Linked DNA regions of Homo sapiens: region 1 is linked to region 2. Evidence: fine-mapped expression QTL. A gene starts in region 2. The other region holds a variant in brackets. All regions are shown on one strand. Distances are from middle to middle.

The links. PIP is the estimated chance that this variant, and not a neighbour inherited with it, causes the effect.
Region 1: its variant is fine-mapped to the expression of FGF17 in caudate (GTEx, PIP 0.96).

The regions. Positions count from the first base shown.
Region 1 is chr8:21,667,575-21,672,942 of GRCh38, forward strand. No RefSeq gene overlaps it. Among named protein-coding and RNA genes, the nearest start is that of GFRA2, 120 kb to the right of the region's middle. The variant TG/T (reference allele first, on the strand shown) is at 2,265.
Region 2 is chr8:22,040,525-22,045,892 of GRCh38, forward strand. FGF17 (fibroblast growth factor 17) reads left to right here and starts at 2,296. Exons shown (of 5, transcript NM_003867.4): 1 at 2,296-2,439; 2 at 2,621-2,657. The coding sequence starts at 2,405. RefSeq lists enhancers at 3,054-4,291, 4,564-4,613, 5,307-5,368.

The DNA of each region.
Region 1 (5,368 bases), 370 kb before region 2:
TAGGGCAGCTTCTCATTTGCCTGGGGAGGAAACTGAGGTTGGCAGAGGAGAGGGGCGGTGTCCCAGGTCTCATGGCTACCTTTACTCCCTCCTCCAACATTATTGTTGCCATGGGCAACAGGACCTGCAAACAACAGTGCATATGGGTCAAGGGCAGGATCCAGGCAGGGCAGGGTGGTGGAGAGACATGGAGCTACCCTTGCCAACACCTCCACCCAATACCTACCACAGGCTGGGGTTTGGCAAATCCAATCTCTGTCTCATAATTCCCAGTTGTTAGCAGCATGTCAAGAACCCCAAGTTTTTCCAAGACAGGCTCTCATTAGTCCTTTCGGACTTCAGGGAGACGCAGGAAGGAGATACACATTGTCCTCTGATACAAAAAAAAAAAAAAAAAAGCAACAAACTGGAAAATCAAGGCCAGGAAAGAGATGGGGCAAAGGGCTAAGCTTTAGAGGCCCCGTGCTACCATTGAGCTAGGTGGCCAGCATTCGTGGCTCAGAGCACAGCTCTGCCACTACCTTGTCCCTTGGGCTGTGGGTCCACAGAAAGCCTGGTTAGAAACTTACTGGGCCCAGGGCCCTCCTGGGTCCTCCTGGCAGCATTCTCAGCCAGCCAAGTGAGTTAAAGGGCCAATGCTTGGTGCCAGCTCCAAACAAACATCTCCCTAACTTCTAGATAGCCTCTCAGAGACAGCCTCAGACTCTCTCAAAGGACCAAGACCAGCCTCATATCCCCTGTACCCACCCCACGGTCATGATATGGGTTACTCCCTGCAGTGCTCCATGGAGATTAGCTGCATTGGGGCTCAGAAAACAACTCCCCAAAATGAAGGCTTCAGAAACAGCCTCAGAAGCAAAAGTCTTTCTCTGCCCTTCTCCTGCCCTCCTGCCTTCCGGTCTCATTCTCCCTCGAGGCTACCCAGAGACACTAGAATCCTTCTTCCCCAAGCTGGGTCATAGAAACCAGGACCCCTTTTCTTCAAAGCCAGCCATAAAACCTAAAAATATGACTCTAACTTTCCCCCTGCCTTTCTTTGTAGACACTGGCCATAAGGAAATTACCTGACCTACCTTGTTTGACTGTAGGTCATGAGACCCTCACTCCAGAGAAAGCCTGCCACACACCCAGAAGGAAGGAAAGCTGCTCAAAGAGGCCAGGAAGAATCTAGACAGACAGGCCTCGCTGGGTTTCCTACTCAGTCTGTTAGTATTATATCAGACTCTTTTAGTCCAATCATATCTCTACACAGCTGTCCATCCTTTGTTGAACCGAAGCTTAAGAATGGACAATTTCCTCTGTATCTTTGGGTCTTTATTCTGAAGGTTTCCATGTACACACATTAAATAAATTTACATGGCTTTTCTCCAACTAATCTGCTTTTTGCAAGTTGATTTTCAAGAAATCTTTACAGGGCCAGAGGGAACTTGGCATGGCAACCCCTATCCAGCTCTCAGGCCTAGGTTTTCTTACTACATTAGCTCTTACAAAAGGGGAGGGAATGTTTCCTGGGAGGGGAGGAAGCACCAGAGGGATCTCTTTTAAGCATCTTCCATCAGTTTTTCCTGAATGAGGTTTGGGAGTGGGGAAGGAATATCCATTGGAACTATCAGGATTCCCTACAGAGGGAGGAGGAGGAGTTTGAAAAACTGTCTTCAAAATTATAGGTCTGGCTTGGTGGCTCACGCCTGTAATCCCAGAACTTTGGGAGGCTGAGGCAGGCGGATCACTTGAGACCAGGAGTTTGAGACCAGCGAAACCTTGTCTCTACTAAAAATACAAAAATCAGCTGGGAGTGGTAGTGCACACTTGTAATCCCAGCTACTCAGGAGGCTGAGGCATGAGAATCACTGGAACCTGGGAGGCAGAAGTTATAGTGAGCTGAGATCACGCCACTGCACTCCAGCCTGGGCAACAGAGTGAGACTCTGTCTCAAAAATAAATAAAATAAAATAAATAAAAATAAAGATTACAATATACAGTTGACCTTGAACAACACGGATTTGAACTACACAGATCCACTTATACACGGATTTTCTTCTACTTCCGCCACCCGAGATAACAAAACCAGCCTCATCCTCCCCTGCCCACTCAACCTGAAAACGACGAGAATGAAGACCTTTGTGATGATCCACTTCCACTTAATGAAGAGTAAATATATTTTCTCTTTCCTATTTCTTAACATCTTTTCTCTAGCTTACTATATTGTAAGAATACAGTATGTAAAACATATAACATAGAAAATATTATGTTCGTTGACTTTA[TG/T]TTATTAGTAAGGCTTCGGGTCCACAGTAGGCTGTTAAGTTTTAGAGGAGTCAAAAGTTATAAGTAGAGTTTTTACTGTGTGGGGAAGTCAGCACCCCTAACCCCTGTGTTGTTCAAGGCTCAACTGTAATTTTATATTTTAAAACAAAAATAAATGTGCCATTTTTGTACTCTAAATTGTGGAAAATAAAATCTGACAAAATACTTTGGCTTGCTGGAGACAAATGCCCAACAGCACAGTGCTCCTCTGGGGGTGGGAGCCTGGCCTCGTGGGGTCAGGGTTTCAAGGGGAAGGAGTGGACATGGGGTCAGACTTGGACATGGGGTTTCAGGTTTGAGGACCATGACACTGTGAGTGTTGGGACCTTCACAGGGATCGTCTCTTCTGATTGGCTCCTTGCAACCTCAGTGGCATCAAAAGCATGAGCTTCAACAGTTTCCCAAACTTCCCAAACCACAGAATAACCTCATGGCTGTGGGGAAATGCGCATTCCTCGGTCCCACCACAAACATGAGCCGGAGACTCTGGATTCATTTTGACACACAACCTATGGCACTGTTCTAATCTGGCCAGATTGTAACACAGGTTTCTAAGTCACGTAATATATCTGTATTCATCAAATTCCAAATTCCATACAAAGATAAACCCAGAGAATCCAGGCTCCTGCAGCTCCCTAACCCTGGCCTGCTCTACCACAGAATACCCTTCGATCCACTTGTTTATCTTCCCCATGTTTCTTTACGCAAATGCAAGCACAAATGAATATACATGTATATATTCTTATTTCTTATATTTCACAAAAGATATACTATTTATACGTTCTGTCCCTCCCTCTTTCACTTAGCAAACTATCCTGGGACTGTCTACATATCCATACATGGAGATTTTCCTCTTTCTTTCTCTCCACTGCAGAGTTTTCCACTGGGTAGATGTGCCAGGACACTTCATGCAGTCCCCGGTGCACAGACGCTGGGTCCTTTCCAGACTTCTGTTATTATGAACAATGCCACAATGAATGACTTTGTACACATGTGATTTCATACGTGTGCAGGTGTACCTGTAGGATAGATTCCTAGAGTGCAATTGTGGGTGGAGGGGTAAAGGCATCCATGATGTTGTTGGACCTTACCAACGTTCCTTCCATAGAGTTCTTCCATGTCACGCTCTGCTTGCAATAGCAGAGATCACATCATTTTCCACAATTTTGCCAACACTGTGTTTTGTCAAATTTTTGTATTTTTGCCCAATCAGAGGGATGAGAAATGGTGTCTCTCAGTGTGGTTTTGATTTGCATTTCTCTCATTAGGAATGAGTTGCACATCTATTCCATTCCAATGATGAAGGAGCATTTGCATTTTTTTTCTGTGAACTCAACGTTCACGTTCTTCACTCGTTTTTCTTCAGTATCACTTGCTTTTTGATTCCACATGTGGTGTTTTGGGCATGCAGAAATCATTTTTATTTTTATATAGTCAAAATTCTTCATTTTTTTTTTAAATGGAGTTTCACTCTGTTGCCCAGGCTAGAGTGCAATGGCGTGACCTCGGCTCACTACAACCTCCGCCTCCCAGGTTCAAGCAATTCTCCTGCCTCAGCCTCCCGAGTAGCTGGGATTACAGGTATGAGCCACCATGCCCGGCGAATTTTGTATTTTTAGTAGTGTATTTCTCCATGTTGGTCAGGCTCGTCTCGAACTCCTGACCTCAGGTGATCCACCTGCCTCGGCCTCCCAAAGTGCTGGGATTACAGGTGTGAGCCACCGTGCCTGGTTTGAATCATAGAAAGTCTATCCCCATCCAAAGTGAACTCCAAGTTTCCCTGCAGCATTATTAGGTTTGCTTTTAATGTTTAAATTGTTGCTCCATGTGGAGATTTTCCCCATGCATGATATTAAGTACAGAGCCAATTTTATCTTTTTCCAGAAATGGCTACTGTATTGTTCCAATACCCTTTATTAAGAATTCATGTTTACCACATAGATTTGAGATGCCATCTGCCTCTCCGTATCACTTCCTAATTCTTACATTGCTTCTGGGCTGTCTTGGTCCTGCTGTTCTACCCCTTTGGTGTATCCATCCATGCCAATGCCACGCTGCTTTCACTATCCAGGCAATAGTACTTCCAAATTGTCGGGTAGGGCTAGTCTCCACTCATTAGCCTGCTGCTTTTTGTTTTTTAAGATATTTTTCATATTTCTTGCTTGTTTCTATTCCCATATAAACTTTCAACTACCTTGTCTAGTTCCGAGGGAGTGGAGCATGGGGGAAAACCTGTAGGTATATTACTGGGAGTAATATACTTGTATAAATTACCTAGGGAGTACTGACTTCTTGGCAATATTGTCTTCTCATTCAAGGAGGTGGTCTGATGAGGGAGAGGGAATTTGTTCTAGCTGCAGGAGGGTCTCGAGGCTGGGGCAGGTGTGTGACAGGAAACGGTGTGGTTTGTGTTTAACCTGAACTCACCGCGGCCATCCCTACTATAATAGTATTTAGTGGCCAAAGTTTACCCCAGTTTTTTCTAGTTCCTCCTATTATTTGAGATTTTGTACTGACATAAGGGGAATTGAGGAAGTTTAGCAGGACACACTAAACATGTGATCTAAGTTCAGAATCTCCTGAACATCCGTTTAGGACTGGTCTTGCTCAGCGTTACTGTAGGTGGTTTGGGGAAGCAAAAGGAGAACAAAGGAAGTCAAGTTACAAGTAAGTTTAGCGTGTGCTTCCTATAAGCTAAGACAAAGGAGGGGGAGTTGCAAGGATATAGATCCTCAAACACCCCAGGGCATATAGCCGGACTCGGTAGCTTGCAGCAGCTTAATGCAGGGTGTCTTAGTTCATTTGGCTGCTACATCAAAATACCTTAGACTGGGTAATTTATAAACAACAAAATTTATTGCTCACAGTTCTGGAGGCTGGGAGGTCTGAGGTGCCAGGAGATTGAATGGCTGGTGAGGGCCTGTCCCCCATAGATAGTGGCTTGTATCTGTCCTCACATGGCAGAAAGGGCTGGCAGCTCCCTCAAACCTCTTTATAAGGGCACAAATTCTATTCAGGAACCCTCCACTCCTAAGATCTAATCACCTCCCAAAGGCTCCACCTC
Region 2 (5,368 bases):
GCTAACCCCCTGGCTAAGCCCCGAGGCCCAGCTTGACTGCTGGCATCTGTTACCATGGAGACCCAGGCTGGCCTGAGGGCTGGGCCAGTGATGGCAGGCCCTGTCCCCATGGATAGAAACAGGTGCTTGGGCTCAGAGGCCTTGAGTGGCTCCCACTGTCCCCATGGCCAGTGAGTCCCGACAGCATAAATTGGAACCGTTACCCACCTTTCGCCCCCCAGCTGACACCTCCACCAACCCAAGGCCTGAGCTGTCCCCTCCACGTGTCTGTGCTCTCTTTAATGCCCTGCCTGGGGGCTGGGAGTGGTGAGGATGTGGATGTGAGGTTGAAGGTTTCTCAGGGAATGAGCCAGAGCTGCCAGAAGAGGCAGAGTGTAACCCAGACTGCAGATGATGGGAAGAACGCGGAACAGAAGTGACCTGAAGGATCCGCAGGGGGAAAGCAGAGAGGTGGGCACGCGGGCACCTGGTACCTTGTCCCAGCCATGCCACCAGCTAGCTGTGAGGCTTTGGGCGAGTCCCTTGCCCTCTCTGGCTCTCATCCAAGGAATGAGGAAGTTGGAACAAATGATGAATCCCTAAGACCCCTTCTAGGTTTGACATTCTTTGAGTTGCATTCCAAAACCCTGGACTCCCCCAGGTAAGCAAGGCCAGGGCTTGCCCCATCCTCCCCACACAAGCTCAGGCAGCACCCACTCCTGGGCTGGGTTCCCGAGGAAGAGCCTGCGGAGAGGAGACCCCGGAGCTGCCTGCACTGGTCAGTGCATGGGGGCAGGGGTGGCAGACCACTTTGTGGATTGATGGAGCTCAGGAAGGTGAGAAGGGACCCACAGGTGAGAGTTTCGCTCCCCTGGTCATCTCTTTAGGTAAATAAATCCACATCCGCCACTTCCCCTTCCCTTCCCACCCTGGGGGCGCTGAGAACTCCAGGGAGCCCAGAGCTGAGGCCTGAGCTCTGCTTGCTCACACTGGGTCTTCCCTCAGAGACCCCCAAGCCCTCCTATCTTCTGCAGTCACCGTCATCCACTTTTCTGTAGGGAGGGAACAGCATGGAGCTCTCTGTTCACCGGTCTCCAGGACCTCGGATTCCACCTTTAATCCTGAAAACCCAGGAAGGCTTCTGTATCCCTACAATGAAGCAGGTTTGGGGCTGGATCTGCAGGGTGGCAACTCAATCCATGCAGAACAGAAGAAGCATGGACTTTTCCATTCTGGCTATTCCATTCACTAGCTGGGCCATTCTGAGCAAACTACCTCCCAATGTGCCTCAGTTTCCTCATCTGCAAAATGGGCTAGTCGCTGGCATTGTACCGAGCAGTATGAGACCGGAGGTCATGGGAAGAGGCTGGTAGGCACTTCATCCCAGGCAGCTGCTCAGGGACATGGGACACAGGGAGGGGACTCCGAGCTGCTCCTAGCTCAGAGAGGCTCTAGGGACAGGCACTGGAAGGAAGGGGATGCAGAATGGTGAGTGGAGCTGGGTCTCAGAACACAGACATCTTGAAGTCTGCTATGTGCTGATTTCACACTTGACCCCCCAACACCCTGAGGCATTACTGTCCTCATTTCTCAGATGGAACTACAGAGGCCCAAGGAAAAGGGGCTTAGGCCAGGACACCCAGCTCTTCTCCAAGTGTCTGTCTCAGGCTAGCTTTTGCAACTCTCCATTGGGATTCTTCCTAGATCTCCATCTGTACCTGCCAACCCACCTCTGACCCCCAACCTGTTGCGCCCAGTATTTGCTGCCGATCAGGACAGCCTTAACCCCTCCTTCCCGGGCAATCAGCTGCTCCAAGCCAAGCCCACCCCTGCCCCCTGGAGGGAGGCGGCTCCTTTTAAGGCTGCTTCTGGGAATTTCCACTCCAGAGCCAGAACCAGAGACCCCAGCCCCACTTGACACCTGCGGCTCACCCTTGGGGAGGTGGGGCGCCAGACCTGAGTGCAGGAGACGCAGACCTGGAAGGGCTCCCCCTCCCTGACCTGCCACACATCGAGTTTGTCTGCGTCGAGTTTGGCCAGTCTGTGAGGGTCAGGAATAGAGCAGGAGACAGCAGGGCCACCTCCTTCAGAAGGCCCCCACCGCTCCATCCCTGCACTGGGTGGCCCAGGAGAGACTGGCAGCCCAGAGGGCACAGCGCGCACGCCCCCACCCGCATCTGCTTTGCAGCCTCACTGGCCAGGAAGGTGGACACCTCATACCTCAGTCTCCCAATTACGCCCTCCTCCTCCCCCTCCTCCTCCCTCTTTTCTCTCCTCCTCCTCCCCTTTCTCTCCTCCTCGCCCCCCTGAAAACCTGTGGCTCGGAGAGACCTTGGCTTCTCTGGGACTCTACCCCTGGGGACTTCCCACATCTGCTCCTGAGCTTGGGGGCAGGGGGGCAACCGCCTGAGGAACCTCTCCAGCGATGGGAGCCGCCCGCCTGCTGCCCAACCTCACTCTGTAAGTGTGCTACCTCTCCCACTGGAGTTTCGTTGCCATTTCCAGCCTCAGGGCAGCCCTCCTCTTCCCGGGACTCCCACGCGTGCGTGCACGGGGCTGGCAGGGCGGGGGCGGGGGCCTGGGTGCACCCTAGGCTTGCAGCTGGCACCCACACCTGGGCTTACCTCCTCTCCCCACACAGGTGCTTACAGCTGCTGATTCTCTGCTGTCAAACTCAGGTAGGCGGGCATTCCCACCGGCTTTCCCCCAATTTTTCCACCCTACCTGACCAGGGCGGGTGCAAGGGACCGGCTCCTTTCAGGTGGACAGAGGCAGAGTCTGGCCTCTCCCTGGGTCCAGGAGGCACTGAGGTTTGGAGGGGAGTGAGCCTTTGACCGGGTGGGCAGGGAAGGGGGCTGACTGAGGTTTTGTCTCTGTCCTCCCTCTGAGGACCCTCCCCACTTCCCCTGGGTCTCTGCTCCTCTTCCTCCCTCTCCATCGGGTTCCCCCAGACTTGAGGGATGGAGCCTGGAGCGGTTGGAAGCAGGTGGAGGTGATGGCTCAGGTGAGGCTTGGGTTTGCCAGTACCTGAAAGGACAGGTTTTGATGCAAGACCACTTGTATGTCCTTCTCGCCACCCCACTCCCATCAATATGGATGCCTGGGGTGGGGGTCTCGTGAGCATGTCCAGAATGCCTGGCCAGGGTGAGGTGACTCCTCACCTAGAGGGCACAGAGGTCAAGCCCAAAGAGGTTTGTTTGGGACGGGATGCAGGGTTCGCTTCTCCACACTCCCCCCACCCCAAGTCGGCCCCCCACCTCCCTCCATGCACACCTCCCACCCCCAAGTCTCAGCCCCCAGTGCGAGGCTTGCTCCCTTTTTTGTGATCCTCCATAAAAGTGCAGCTATTAAAATGCACTGGTCCAGAACCGCTCTGGGGAGAGATCGCTTGGCTTTCCCAGGCCAGAGGCCCGCTTCTCTTCATATCCAGTGGGGACTTTTTTTGAAGGTAAATGCCTTTTCTCTGGGAGAGGGAAAGGGGCAGCCTTTGAAGCAGTGGGGGGGTGGGAGAGGGAGAGACAATTCCCCCCCCCTTCCTTCCCCCTTTTGCTCCAGCCCCGTTCCAGGCCTTTTGCTTCACACATCCAGGGGGAGCCAGAAGAAAGCCCCCAGCCTGGCTGGGAGGGGGCTGGGGGTGGGCCCAACCTGTTCTGGAGGGGAACTAGCACAATGGTGCGGCTGGCCGGGCGTTTATGGCCTGGCTGAGGCCCCATTCAGGACTCAGGGAAGGTGGCAAAGCGGTCCTTTCCCCCTTGAAGTGCCCCCTCACCCCCCTGGGAGGGGGGGCCAGCAGGCCGGACCACAGCCATGCTTGAGGGGCTGTCTGACAAGCAGCTGTCTGCAGTGGTGGAAGGGGAGGTCCTCCCGCAGCGGGAACATGAAAGGGACAGGCTAGGTCCCGCGGGGAGAGGGACTTGTGGGTTGTGGGCTGTGGGGGGGCGTGGGGCTGCTTTTGTGAAAAGCTTGAAGGGGGACGAGGAAAGGAGGGGGCTTCGGGGGGGCGCTTTCTGCTCCTGACCTGGAACAGACTGCCAGAGGAGGCCGTCGGCCAAGAGGGGCGGAGGGCCTGAACCTGGGCCAGGAGGCGGGGCTGGGATAGGCAGGACCCCACCCCCTGGAAGGGAGGCCAGCGTGGGGCAGGCTGGGCAGGTCCCCCACCCCAAATGCTCCAGGGTGGGGCGAGGGGCAGGTCTTGCAGAGGCTAGGCAGAGGCTGCTCTATGGGGAGGTGCAATTGGAAATGAGCAACGGTGCACAGTAAGTGTTAACCCCGCGCAGGTTAAATGTCCAGCTCTGAGAGCTGCTCCCTCACTCCCCCTGCCTCAAAGGTGATATTTCCCACCCCCTCCCTAGGAGAGAGTAGCCCCTAACAGATGCTAATCTGGGTCTAGCTCTGTCCAGATGGCTGAGGTTGGGCCTGGGATAAAGGTGGAATTAGGGATTTGGGGCAGGGGCTGAGAAAAGCTGTCCCAGCACAGGCAGCGGCATCCAGGTGGAGACAAAACCAGCAAAAAAGGTACATTCTCATGCTAGAGCTGAGGCTGTTGCCAGGAGCCAGGAAACCTAGCCCGGGTCGCACCTTGCAGGATGGAGGGGAAGAAGTACTCAGTCTCTCCCACTCAGCCTTACAGATGGGTAACGAGAGACCTAGCTGGGAGGCGGTACTCCTCCTGGCTTTGCACAGTGCGTGGGGGGAAATGGTTCCTCTCCCCCAACCCAAAGGGGAAGCAGGTGGGCGGGCGCATCCCACCAACTGGCCAGGAGCCTCTGTTACATTGTGGCTAAGGAGCTGCCTGCCAGGGGCAGCCATTGGGCCACCGCTGATAGTGCCTGTCCTCTTGGTACTGCCTCTGCCTCCCTCCGCTAAGGAGGCACCTTGCCTGCCTGCTGTCCCATAGTGCCCAGCCCCAGCCCCAGCCCCAGCTCCAGCCCATAGAGGAGGGAGGAACACTGGAAGGGCCCTGAGCACCAGGGGGCAAGGCCGGGAAGAAGATGGGTATGAGCTCAGGATTCCACAGTTAGTGCTTCAAAGAAATGCTCATGGGACCCTGCAGGAGCTTTCAGAGTCCCCCACATGCTCTCTGGTGACCCTAACTCGCAGCACCATCTGCTCTGTGCCCGTGTGCTGGGCAAGGGGTCTTTCAAGGCCAGTGGGGAGGATGAGGAAGGAATCTGGTTGTCCTGGCTAATGGAGCATGTCCTTGGAGTTCTGGGGGAGATGACAGGCTCTGGTCTAAGAGGTAGGGACAGGGGTTCTGTCCCTAATGAGCTGTGTGCCCCGTGCACCTCCTTCATAGAATACGAGGACGGGATAGAACCCTGAGGGCTCCTTCCAGCTCCCAGAGTCCTGATTCCAGGGCTGTGCTCTGTCAATAAGTGTCCCCCAGCCT